Linked DNA regions of Homo sapiens. The protein of the gene in region 2 interacts with the protein of the main gene of each other region in a pairwise test. Each region holds a gene or a part of one and is shown on either strand. Other genes may lie near its edges.

Region 1 (7,027 bases), on a different chromosome or scaffold from region 2:
ATCAAAGAGCTTCCCAGTTTTCATGTTAGTAAACTTGGAAATAATTTTCTCATGCACCTGATTTTTAGCTTCCTATTTTAACACCGATTATTCTTAAACTTTATGGGAGTAAATACCCATCTGTCATTAACTAAAATGAGTAGTTAGGTTTGGAAGTAGACAGTGGCTTACCAAATTGAGATTGGCAAACTTGTGGGAACTCTTTGTTTTCCTTTCACATCTGTGAGTTCAAATATAATACAAATTAATGTAGAACTAGAGTACTAAAGTGACTTTTTTTCAGAGCATGTATACACTTTATTTTATCATTGTTCTCCTCTAGATACTTTCAGTTTCTGATGGCATAGCTGAAGTCATGTTGTGGCTTTATTAGTTTCAGGAACTTGGATGTCTGTTTTAAACCTTAGCTATCATTTTAGTCATCCCAGGAAGTTTGACTTGACTATTCTTATTTAAATATTTTTCAAACTGTTGCAACTTAATACTAGGAAAAAGGAAGGACTAGCTGAGCTGACGGAAGTTAAGCTTGCTTTCTTAACCGCAAGGCTTAGAGCCTTTATTATGCTAATTGGCATTATGAATTTTTTAGGGACTCCTTAACACACAGCTATCCCAAACCTGTTTTTTAGGACACCTAAGTGTTACTAATTCAGAAATGCTGTTCAGGGTCTAGGGATGGTTGACAAAGTATAGCCATATTTTTGTGTAGCCTGAGAGCTAAGAATGTTCTTTACATTTTTTAAATGGTTGGAAAAGAATCAAAAGAATTATTTTGTGACACGTGAGAATTATGTGAAATTCAAATTTCAGTGTCCATAAATAAAATTTTATTGGAACACAGCTGTGCTCATTCTTTTTTTTTTTTTTTTAAGTATTGTTCATTGCAGGTGACGATGGCAGAGTTTAATAGTTGTCACACACAGTATATTGCCCCGAAAACTCCATATTTGCTCTCTGGTGTTTACAGAAAAAGTTTGCTTACCCTCATGTGGGGTGTCAGCAGTGAGGTTTATAATACCCCTGGGTATGGAAAAGGAAAAGTGATCAGTGGAAGTAAGGGGAGGGGGAGCAGAAGCATTGAATATCGTTGGTGAAATGAATGCCTCTAGTAGCTGCATCAATACTTACCCTGGTAAGTTAGTTGAAAACCAAAGTATGCTTTACTATTGGTTTTTGAAACATCTCATAATACTACCATTTAGCCAAAAGATTGTCATGACATTCCCAAGAAAGAATTTTAATAAAACCAAAATATTGCAACATTATAAGAGACCGTCAATCAAATCCAGCACATTGTTTTCATTATGTAGTGAATGAATGGTCTGAAGATACCCTTCTGTGAATGTTAATGTATTTGTGAGTTTGTTAGGCACATTAATTCACATTGTTTATGGCTTGGTACCATTAATCTGCCTTAGGAATTGAATTCTGTGAAGAGTTAAGTTCCTTTGTAAGAACTCATTGTACTTGCTGGAAACTTGCCATTAAAAATGGAAACTGCAGCTTGTGAATGGGGAAGGGTTTACAGGAACATAGATTGTTCACCAGACATTGATGCATGCCTGCAAACGGAGACACCAGCTGGCTTCAATGAAATATAAATGGTTCTAGGCGAACAAATGAGACGTCTGTTGGAGGAGGCAGCATCTCTCTTCAGATGTCATTTACATTGAGCCAGAAGTATTTTTTAATATTTTGTGGTTATTTAGACAGCTGTTAAGTTGCTCCTAGTTTCTCACTGGATTTGGCAAATAAATGTTTTTAATGGTCTTTGTACTTTGAGTCTTAAACCTGATATTCTATTTAGGACTGTGTATGTAGCTGCAGTTACTGCATATTTCTGTGATTTATGCATTTAAGAATCCTGTAAGTTTATGGCCATTAAAAACTGCAGTTGTATTCATTACTAATATAGAGCTTTTTTTTTTTTTTTTTCTTGAGACAAAGTCTTACTCAGGCTGGAGTGCAGTGGCATGATCTCAACTCATTGCAACCTCCATCTCCTGGGTTCAAGCGATTCTCGAGCCTCAGCCTCTGGAGTAGCTGGGATTACAGGCGTGCGCCACCACACCTGGCTGATTTTGTTTTGTATTTTTAGTAGAGATGGGGTTTCACCATGTTGGCATGGCTGGTCTTGAACTCCTGACTTCAGGTGGTCCAACTGCCTTGGCCTCACACAGTGCTGGGATTATAGGTGTGAGCCTGTGCCGCCGGCTTTTTTTTTGTTCGTTTGTTTTGAGACGGAGTCTCACTCTGTCGCCTAGGCTAGAGTGCAGTGGCGCAATCTCAGCTCACTGCAACCTCCACCTCCTAGTTTCAAGAGATTCTCCTGCCTCAGCCTCCTGAGTAGCCGGGATTACAGGCGCACACCACCACGCCCGGCTAATTTTTGTATTTTTAGAAGAGATGGGGTTTCACCATGTTGGTCAGGTTGGTCTTGAACTCCTCACCTCATGATCCACCTGCCTCAGCCTCCCAAAGTGCTGGGATTACAGGCGTGAGCCACCGCGCCTGGCCTCCCTGGCTTTTTTTTTTTTTTTTTTGGATGGAGTCTCACTCTGTCCCCCAGGCTGGAGTGCAGTGGCACAATCTCGGCTCACTGCAAGCTCTGCCTCCCGGGTTCACGCCATTCTCCTGCCTCAGCCTACCAAGTAGTTGGGACTACAGGTGCCCGCCACCATGCCTGGCTAATATTTTGTATTTTTAGTAGAGATGGGGTTTCACCGTATTAGCCAGGATGGTCTCGATCTTCTGGCCTCATGATCTGCCCGTCTCAGCCTCCCAAAGTGCTGGGATTACAGACGTGAGCCACTGCGCCCAGCTCCCGGCTTTTTTATTAAGGTAGGAAAATAAAGCCTAACTTGAGCACAGCAACACATAGGCTAAACATGGCTAGATTAGAGGTTAGCCCCTCTTTAGGTGTGGAAGGTACTATTCACTATGGTTGCCACGGAGACATAACCTGAGATGTAAAGGAGAATAATATAAATTTCTTCAGTTTTTTAATGGCTTTATTGGAAAAAGAATGTAGTACATACTAATCGGGTCTTTGTTTTGTTTTTGTTTTCTGAGACAGTCTTGCTCTGTCCCAGGCTGGAGTGCAGCAGCACAATCTCGGCTCACTGCAATCTGCCTCCTGGGCTCAAATGATCCCCCTGCCTCAGCCTCTCAAGTACCTGGAGATACAGGCATGTGCCACCATGCCCAGCTAATTTTTGTATTTTTTTGTAGAGATGGGGTTTCACCATGTTGCCCAGGCTGGTTTCAAACTCCTGGGGCTCAAGCAATCTGCCCGCTTCAGCCTCCCAAAGTGCTGGGATTACAGATTTGAGCCACTGTGCCCGGCAGGTTTTTTCTGCTAAGTGTTTTGATAGATCTAGAAAGACAGTGATAGAAAGCTTTCGTTTTGAAAGATTGAGAATAAAAGCTTCAGTGGAAGTGCCCAGTTGTGAGTATCTTTCCTATTTGAAAAGAGATTTTTCTCTTTATAAAAGAAGAATGTGAAGTAATAGCATGGGTTAAGTTTGGGCCTCTTGAATAGTTGGTTCATGAAACTAGATAATGGTATTAGGAGTGGGAGTAGGTATTTTCAAGTACCTATCACTGAATTAGTTAACCAGCAATTTGTAGTCTCTGTAGTCCTTGTGTTAACCCTATGCCTAGCACTGTTGATTCAAAGAACGTTCTCTATATATGTGAAACTACAGGGAATTTCTTGCCTTTGAGAGCACCGCCTGCTTTTAAAAAGGTATGAGAGAAAATATTTATTTAAGCCTATACAAAACTATCAGGCATCTTAAGTCTTGACATTTCCCAAGGTTCTTAGAGTTGCTATGGTTGGAAAAAAATGTAATTTCAGTTTTACCCTGTAATTCTGTACCAAATTTTCTTTTTAGACTGTTCTATGACATTGTCATAATGTGTAACATTTTTGACAAAAAATGTGACTCCAACGAGTCGTAATAAATACTGCAATTAGTTTAAGACTTTGAATAATACTTTTCTGAGGAACTTTAAGTATATTTCTCTCTTCATTTTTCTGGATAATGATGAGAACATGGATTACATGAATTACAATATTTTAAGTAGCCCCATGTATAAGAATTTTTCTATTATCAGGTATTTGCTCATTGGAAGAAACATTTTAAAGGGTTTCACAGGATTTTTAGAAGAAAATACTTTTTAATAAGAAGTTGTGATTTATTTCCAAAGAAATTGAATTATTTGTTATAGCAAGTTTCTCACATGAGATGATATTGTATCTATATTAAGCAGGGAATCCCTGCAGGTAATTTAAAATTCTAGTGGATGTTAGTTTTTCAGCTTTGATATTTATTTTGGGCCTATTAATCAGAATTTTACAGTATAATAGATTTTGTAATATTTTTGGTGATGAGGATTTTACAGTATAACAATTTTTGTAATATTTCTTGTGATGGTAGGCTTTGTTGGGTGGTAAACTTTCTAGCACTAAGAAAGCAGCTCATAATAATATACTTTTAGTTTGTCTTGGGGTGTAGCTTTTTTTCCCTTTAGTTTTTATCTGTCACAAGTGTCACAGGCAGATCATCTTGAGATGTACTAGTGGCTATTGTGATTTTATTAACATTGTAATCTTTCCATTAAATACAACTTCTGGATTTGACTTTTTAGGTCTTTTGATGTACCTGGATTTCTTAACATTATTAAAACATTTAAATTCTTCTTCTAGAAGTCACTTGTTCGAACCCTTATGAACCTCATTTGAGTTCTAGATACTGCACTGGCTAGGCAAAGAAGAGTAAGAGTCTCTCTTGAGAGACTGATGATAGAGCAGCCACTGTTGATACTTTATTAGCTAGCACTTTATGCTTTATCAGTATACCTATTTTCATTTCTTATTAATATTTTTCCACATTAGTATTCATTTCCCCTTTGATAGCCTAAATATTGAAATTGGTTTACTGATTAAATCACTTTTGAAACAGTTTTTTTCCTTAAAGTGTTAAGGCTTGTTTACTAAGTTTCTGAAATTGTGTCAGTATATGATGTGTATTCTCACTTTGGTTAGCATTCATTTTCATTTCTGTTAATGTTAATTCTTGTAAAACTCCCTCAAAAAAATCAAACTAGTTGGAATGGTTTGAGAGAGGGACTTGGATTTTTCTTTTGTTTATTTTTGTTGAACTGATGAGTAAATGAAGAGTAGAATGTACAGTGAAGTTTGAAGAAAGCCAATTTTTCAAACATTACTGTCCCCCTGAACTGTGCCTTTTAATTATGATAGGAGATTGTCTTGTTCCTCCTACTAAAATATGATTATCTAGAAGAACTTTTCTAAGTGGTATACTTGATTTAAAGTATAGAAGATTTTAGTTGCTATGATAGAGAGGGGGACTTGATGTTCACTGTGACAATCTTTCATAGCCCAGGGTAAAATAGTGCATTATCAGAGCCTGGCATTGTAATTAGTTGTACATGTGTGGAAATACTGACCTATCAACTTGGAATAATTCTTCACTTTTTTTTTTTTTTTTTTGAGACAGAGTCACAGTCTGTCGCCCAGGCTGGAGTGCAGTGGCGCAATCTCAGCTCACTGCAACCTCTGCCTCCTGGGGTCAAGCGATTCTCCTGCCTTAGCCTCCTGAGTAACTGGGATTACAGGTGCGCACTGCCACACCTGGCTAATTGTATTTTTAGTAGAGACAGGGTTTCACCATGTTGGTCAGGCTGATCTTGAACTCCTGACCTCGTGATCCGCCCGTCTGGGCCTGCCACAGTGCTGGGATTACAGGCGTGAGCCACCGCGCCCGGCCATTTCTTAACTTTTAAAACACCAATAAAGCATTCTGGCTAGATATAAATACCTGTCCTAAGATGAGGCATTTTAGAGTCTTGAAGCATCCCTTATATACATTTCTGGATGTAACATGAAGAGGTGTTACAATTTTTTTTTATAGCTAGTCATTGCTGTTTCAGGGGTCTCATTAGATGAGAGTTATGCTTCATTTTGGTTATTGCCTTTTTCTTTTTTTGAGATGGAGTCTCACTCTGTCGCCCAGGTTGGAGTGCAGTGGCGCAGTCTCCGCTCACTGCAACCTCTGCCTTCTGGGTTCAAGTGATTCTCCTGCCTCAGCCTCCCGAGTAGCTGGGACCACAGGTGCCCACCATCATACCCGGCTACTTTTTTGTATTTTTAGTAGAGATGAGGTTTCACCATGTTAGCCAGGATGGTCTTGATCTCCTGACCTCGTTGATCCGACCACCACAGCCTCCCAAAGTGCTGGGATTACAGGCGTGAGCCACTGCGCCCGACCAGTTATTGCCTTCTTGACAATCCCATTTTTTGAAGTTTCAGTGTATGAAAGTATAAATTATGCATAGTACTGATGTCTATTCTAACTCCTGTTTTCTAAAAATTAACTTTCCTCGTTGTGATATTTATTTATTTTTGAGACAAGAGTCTTACTCTGTCACCCAGGCTGGAGTGCAGTGGCACGATCTCGGCTCACTGCAATCTGCCTCCTGGGTTCAAGCGATTCTCCTGCCTTAGCCTTCTGAGTAGCGGGGATTACAGGCGTGCGCCGCCACACCCAGCTAATTTTTGTATTTTTAGTAGAGACAGGGTTTTGCCATGTTGGCCAAGCTGGTCTTGAACTCCTGACCTCAGGTGATCTGCCCACCTCTGTCTCCCAAAGTGCTGGGATTACAGGCATGAGCCACCGCGCCCAGCCCATTGTGATTTATTTTAACATTAAATGCTAATAGAATTTTGATTAAGTGTAGTAATGTACTACTGGAGAGGGTAGTAGATGTTAAGAACTTGGGCCCTGAGGTCAAACCTGGCTCTGCCATGTTCAAGCCGTGTGACATTGCAGAAGACACTGAAGCAGAGCCTCATTTTTCTCATCTCAGGAAATGTGCACATGATGATAGTAGCATATGCCTCTTAGGGTTGTGAGAATTAAGAGCATTTACTGGCCAAGTGATGGAAATGGTCTCAAGAAGGCAACCTCAAATGGGACTTTTACTCACCAGCAAGTTTGCC
Region 2 (7,027 bases):
AGCCCAATGAGGCTAGAAAAGGCTGAAGACTTCACAGACCTAATTTTTAATGCAGCTCTCAGGGGTTTTACCAAGAGCATTTATTTACTCTTTAAGATACTAATGAAGACCCTTAATATTGGTAAAATCATAACATATAGGTTACATTATACAGCTAGTGAAGTGGGAAAATAAAGTTGAAGAATTCCCAATGGTAGATAGCATTTTTGCACAGAATGGTTTTAAATAAACTCCACATTTTAAAGTCCTGATGGTTTGTATTTAGCATAAGGTTTAAAATGATAGTAATACTGTATGCTATATATAGAGCTGCCTGAATTTCAACATTGCTGTTGCCAAGGTAGATAGCAATTTGAAAATGGGTCTCAAGCTTGATAATGTGTATCCTGTCATAACCTAATTAACAAATGCGCCCTACAGAAATCAGGAGCGTGACCAAAAAAAAAAGTTTAAATCAGCATTTTATAAAAACTAGAAACAAAATAATTGCTTTCACAATGTAGTACTTGAAACTAAAGTTCTCCAGCTATCAACAGATGTGACTCCAGCATCAAGGGCCTAGCAGGAAAATTCTGAATGGTTTACAACAGTGCACATAAGTTGCAGGTGGCTGGGGCCGTGTGTCTATTTGATGCTTCCCAGAATGTGTGCTGCTAGTCACCATTTCCACCATTCACATATTTAACATTTTTATTAGACTTTTATTTAGCCTCATCATAAGAATATAAGGGAGATCATAGATTTGATGTATGAAATTTTTAAATTCACACTAAAATACATTACGATTAAAATGAATTATCTTCAACCACCCGTTTTGCTATCTTTTGCTGAGTAATCTGTGCCAGTCATTGTGAAAAAGTCTTTATTTTAAGAAAAAAATTTAGTTAACAAAAAATTTAACAAGTTTCACTTAGCAAAATACACCCAAAAGGAAATCACAGTACAAAGAAAGTTTTAAGTCAAGGCCTCACCAATTCCTACAGTATTAGTATTGTGTCTCAATTCTCAAAACTAACTTTTAAAAAGCTTAAACTTAACCTAAAGGATTTTAAATGAAAATATAAACTAGAATGAACAAACATGAGAAATATTTCTTTGAATCAGGGAGCTAGCACCTTTGAGTTTTCCAAAAAAGCACGTCTCCCCAGTGTGTTCACTGTGATGTGGTGTAAAAGATCCACATTTAACATACTTAAACTACTTAAACTTAGATAACATCACTCTGAAGTATACTACCAAAATGTTAATTGAGAAAAGCTGAAAATAGTTTTAGTTTACTCATTATCACATGCTAGAAGAAAATTTTGCATGAGAAAACACTGAAGAGGTAATTTTTTAATCCAGATTTTTCACAAACTCATGGTGCAAAATGGGTCCCCCAGCTTCCTCTATTATAACTGCTCTTAATTGCTTGTTGGCTGCCTGTGAAAATGATTGAAGTAACTCAAATGTTCCTAACAAAACTAGTCATAGCCACCCATGCTGTTCTGCCCACTGTAGCCGGCCCCGTAACAGCCACTCACTGACTGGCTCTCCAGGCCACTGTAAGTGGCCTGGGCAGCAGACACCCCCATGCCTTGCATCACCTGGCTGCTATACGCCCCATTGCTGGCCCCTGTTGTTGAATTCAAGAAGAGTTCTATATATCTGTGCTGCATATTGGCCCTGTCTTTGGACATAGCTGCCACAGCTTCTTCATGAGTAGCAAACTCAACATCTGCTTCACCCGTCACTCTTCCATCTGGGCCAATCTCAATATGGACTCTCACAGGGTTGAGAGGAGAGAAGAAGTTGTAAATGTCGTTCTCGGTCGCTTTGTACGGCAGGCCCCTCATGTGGACACAGTGGCCTGTGGTGCTCTGCACTGTGAACTCACTGTCGCCGTATCTGTGGTCATACATTCCGGAGAGACAGTAGCTGAGGTCTCTCCCGAACAGGTCGGTGGTGAAGCCGTAGCCATCACTGAGGCCACTGTACTCCTCGTAGCCCCCGTAGCCTGTGCTGTAGGCACCAGGCCTCATCCTTTCCAGGCCTGCCTGCTTCACGATGCCAATGTACCTCCTGGCAGTCCCGGGCCGGTCATAGGGCCCTGGCCGCTGCACGGACATGAACTTCAGAGGGGGATCTGAGTATGACCTAACTTCCTCCTGGCTGCTCTTAAACACCTCAATGTACCTGTGCCCTATCCTCTCCTTGTGTTTCCCTAGAGCCTTCTCAGCTAACTCCTGCGAGGCAAACTGCACGAACGCTTCCCCTGTAATCTTGCCTTCGGGGTCCACAGGCAATGTGATCCCGTTTGGCACAATTTCCAACCCTGAGAAGAACTGAACAATTTCTTCCTTTGTGCATCCAAATGGGAGTCCTCGAAGCCGCACGAAGCCATCGTTGGCGCTGTCGGCACTGTTGGGACCACTGTGCTTCAACACCCAATCCATCTCGGTTCTGTGGGACTTGAACACCTCAATGTACCGGTGTCCCATGCTTTCCCTGTCTTTTTTCAGGGCCATTTTTACATCATCTTCTGATCCAAGTTCAACAAAAGCCTCACCACTCTGCCTGCCCTCTCTAGTGTAGATGAAATGGACACCTGCGGCCCCATCATGAATCGTGCAGTCAGAGAGGAAGTTCTGCACGTCCTCAACAGAGCAGGACCAGGGCAGGCCACGGAGCTTGACCACAAAGCCTTCACCTCCCTCAGGGCCCAGCATCATGGACACTTGTCAGGGTGGGTGTCAGGTGATCTTGGGTGTGGCTTTTTTGTGGCTGGAAAAAAAAAAAAGAAAAATTTATTTAGTATGCAACAGAAATTTTCCCCATTTTACAGACGAGAGAGGTAGCAAGACATTAAGAAATATACCAAATACAATTGAGAGCTAAGAGTTAACTCCAGGTCTCTCAAAAAATTACATTATCAGTCACAGGCAGTTTGAAAAACAAATCAGGAGTTTACAAGACAGGACGATGCATGTGAATGTGGTGCCTTGAACACAGAGAAATGTAAGTTTCAGTCAGTTTAGAGCAAGGGCATTTCCTTGTTATATTTATTCCACATATTTGTCATGATAATATGTGGCAGTTCACCTATAAGAGCTCCTGAGTTGTTCCTCCTAAACTATACGCCTTACATTTGGTAAAATAGTAAATTTAGTAAATCTGCTTGTCTATGGTAGGATACTTTTACTTTCATGAGTAAAAATAAGGGATGGGAACATAGCAGGCTGTTTTTAAACCACAACATAGGGTAAGATTTTCTAGTGTTCTCATCAGCAGTAATGTTGCCAGGATACAAGACAGCAATGGCTTCCACTGTCTATGGAGTTATGATTTTGCTCCTAAATTGTCAATTCAAACTAAATACCAGTCAAGTATGAGGCCAAACTGATGACATATACAGACAAGCAGACAAATTCACCAGCAGACTTAGTTATGTGCACTGCAAATAAATGGAGAAACCAGATCAGATGATTCACAGGTTCACATAAAATATAGCAGAATTGCTGCCTTGTGCTGAAGATCTGGAAGAGGGCATCGGGAAGAAAGGGCAATCGCAAGAGGGCTGAGAAATGCCCTTCCCACCAGGGTGGTACATGGCACCTGAAGTCCAAACTCAGAGTAAGGCCAACCACACACTGGAAGGCAGTCTTCTGAGAAAGAGGAGCAGCTGACCTAGACAGCAGGGTCTATAACATAGTCACAAGCAAGAAAAACACTGCAGTATCATGGGGCCAAAGACGTATTTTTATATGAACACTGTCAAGGGTGACGCTCAAAAAGAGCATAGGAGTATATGGAATTTTTTTTTTTTTTTTTTTTTTTGAGACAAGAGTCTCACTGTCGCCCAGGCTGGAGTGCAGTGGTGCTGTCTCGGCTCACTGCAACCTCCGCCTCCTGGGTTCACGAAATTCTCCTGTCTCAGCCTCCTGAGTAGCTGGGATTACATGCACCAGCCGCCACGCACGGCTAATTTTTTATACTTTTAGGAGATACGGGATTTCACCATGTTGGCGAGGTTGGTCTTGAACTCCTGACCTCAGGTGATCCGCCCACCTCAGCTGCCCAAAGTGCTGGAATTACTGGCGTGAGCCACCATGCACAGCTGGAAATCGAATGTTTCAAAGTGTCATTTTACATCAAGCATAATAGATATAGCTGGTGGCCTTTTCAAGAAATATGGGCTCATCATGTGGGGAAAAAAGCTCCATAAGAAAACCCCACAATTTAAAAAACAGACAAAAAGTAAAGGTAAGTGTAATTTAAGAAAAGGAAAAGCAAATTCATACTAAATAAATGCTCAACTGCACTAGCTTCAGGGAAAATTAGTAATTTTAAAGTTTGATGTAGCCATTGCAGATAATGACATATTATCATACAGTGCTTCATCATTTCAAATTGACAACGTCTAAAAGGATAATTGTGTAAATCTTTCAAATTTACCTGTGTCTACACCAGATTATAAAGATAACAAGATGTGTCTCCTCTCCCAATAACAAGCATAATGGCACAAATGAAACAGAACAGTATGTGATATCCTGAACACATCACCAAGACCAAACACTCGGCATTTACTCACGAACTGTGATTTGGAATGCAAGGGCTTTCAAAGTATACAGCCTAACTAAAAGATGTCACCCTTGCTAATGAGAGTGGAACATGGAAGCCTCTGGGAAGAGAGTCAAGGGGAGCCTAACCTGGATTGCTCATTGCCCACCTCAAATTATTGACTATGTACATAAACTCCATCAACTTTTATAAAATAATCCTGAACGGCAAATGATTGGGCATAAATAATCCTATCCCCAATTCTCAAACTGTGCTTTGGGTCTGCAACAAACCCTGGGGTTTAGCCTCCACCTTAGAAAGTAATGGTCTCCGCCTCCCCAGGGCCTTATCTAAATCCCCTGCATATGGCCACTGCAACATGCTGATCTGGCAGAGCAAGGTCACAGCAGATTCTTCCTCTCCTGTCCACGGAGGGAATTCTGTGCTAACAGTTCAGAAGCTCCTCCTTGGAGAGTCAGGGCAAGTTTGTATTGTGTCTCTTGGGATAATGGGTCTGGGACAGCTCAATTACAGGTGGGGGCTTCTTATGCAATTCCATTCCCAACACTGGGTCAGGCTAGGCACCGCCTGTCCTTTTGTCTTTGACCATACCCTGGTCTTGCTCCTCACTCATGAAAAGTATCTGAAGGCCTCCCTCGAGTTCTGTTCCTAGCCTTAGGTCCAGCCATCGTTCCGGGTAGGGGAGATGAAGCCATAATCCACTAACCATTTTCTCCTGGACTCCTACCTCCAATGATTTCACCATTCCCTGCAGGAAACCCCACCTAATCACATCCTACTCCCTCCACCACAACTGCTATCCCCCTCCTTTGTAGAGACCTTGGCTTCCTTATCCACACAGCCTCTTTCTCTCCTCATTCTTCATAATCCAGCTTAGAGCAAGTATCATTTTACATTCCTTCCTCACAATACATGGAATTCATTCAATGAACTTCTTAACTGTACGCGCCCAGTAAAACCAGAGCTCTGGAAGATTCCAAACAAATATCTGACTACTCCATGGATGTACTGAGTGGCTCAGCTGCACACAGCCAGGCGAAACGGTGCCTCTAAGCTACAATTTCTCAGCCTCAGGACTACTGACATTTTGGACCAGACAGTTCTTTGTGTTGTGGAGGCAGGCCCAGGCACTGTAGGATGTTTAGCTGCATCCCTGGTCTCTGCCCACTAGATGCCAGTAGCACCCTCCACCTCCAGTTCTGACAACCGAATGTCTCCAGACATTCCCAAATGTTCTCTGGTGGCTAATGCTGCCCCCAAGTTGTGAAATACTGTAGAAATCAGGGTGAGGCCAGGCACAGTGGCTCCCACCTATAATCCTAGCACTTTGGGAGGCCGAGGTGGGTGGGACCACTTGAGATCATGAGTTCCAATAGACAAAACCTCTGTCTCGACTAAAAATACAAAAAACTAGCCGGGCGTGATGGTGGGCACCTGTAGTCCCAGCTACTTGGGAGGCTGAGGCAGGAGCATCGCTTGAACCTGGGAGGCAGAGGTTGCAGTAAGCCAAGATCGCACCACTGCACTCCAGCCTGGGCGACAGTGCAAGACTCTGTCTCAAAAAAAAAAAAAAAATTACCTGGACGTGGTGGTGGGCGCCTGTAGTCCCAGCCACTACGGAGGCTGAGGCAAGAGAATCACCTGAACCCAGGAAGCGGAGTTTTCAGTGAGTGGAGATCGCACCATTGTACTCCAGCCCGGGTGACGGAGCGAGACTAACTCCAAAAAAAAACCCACCACACAAGAAAAAAAAAAGAAAATCAGAGTGAACAGCCATAGAGTAAGCGGGCCCTCAATATCGCCCACTGTCCTACCCCAGCACCCTGCTTGTCCAAAGCCCTTCAGATGTCTGGGGCAGCCTTACAGACTCTCACCTCCTCTCCAGCTGGTTGACATTACTCTTGGAAGTGGACTTTGTGAAGTCAAGTCAGAGTCCAGGAGTTTGTAAGCACGTAGTGGGCCCCTTACAGCGGACATCGTGAACAACAGCTCTGCTCTGGGTCCAACCTCACATACCCCGGAGCCATGCTTTCTTCTTTTTTTCCTTTTCCCCTTTCTCCACTGAGCCCTGTCTACTTGGTAATTAAACATGCTCAGTTCTACCCAATCATGTCATACCTCCCCTGTGCCAACTTTGCCTCTAGCTACTTGTTGATTTGTTCAGCAAAATCTTGTCAAAAGGCCTCTACTGTCACTTCCACTCCCCTCCATTAAAACTGCATGATCAAGGCCACGTGTGGTGGCTCACCGCCTGTAATCCCAGCACTTTAGGAGGTCAAGGAGGGTGGATAACCGGAGCCAGGAGTTCAAGACCAGCCTGACCAACATGGTGAAATCCCGCCTCTACCAAAAATACAAAAATTAGCCGAGCATAGTGGTGGACACCTAGGTTGAGCGCAGTGGCTCACGCCTGTAATCCCAGCACTTTGGGTGGCCAAGGCAGGCAGATCATTTGAGGTCAGGAGTT

Evidence for each region. Proteins that work in one complex are often made in the same cells at the same time.
Region 1: the proteins of HNRNPF (region 2) and AKIRIN2 interact in binary tests that used the Homo sapiens proteins (3 or more experiments, as listed by UniProt).

The regions. Positions count from the first base shown.
Region 1 is NC_000006.12:87,692,216-87,699,242, reverse strand, and holds part of AKIRIN2 (akirin-2), read left to right. Parts: intron 1-7,027. UniProt on the Homo sapiens protein: Molecular adapter that acts as a bridge between a variety of multiprotein complexes, and which is involved in embryonic development, immunity, myogenesis and brain development.
Region 2 is NC_000010.11:43,385,174-43,392,200, forward strand, and holds the end of HNRNPF (heterogeneous nuclear ribonucleoprotein F), read right to left. Parts: intron 2,764-7,027; 5' UTR 2,712-2,763; coding exon 1,464-2,711; 3' UTR 445-1,463; downstream 1-444.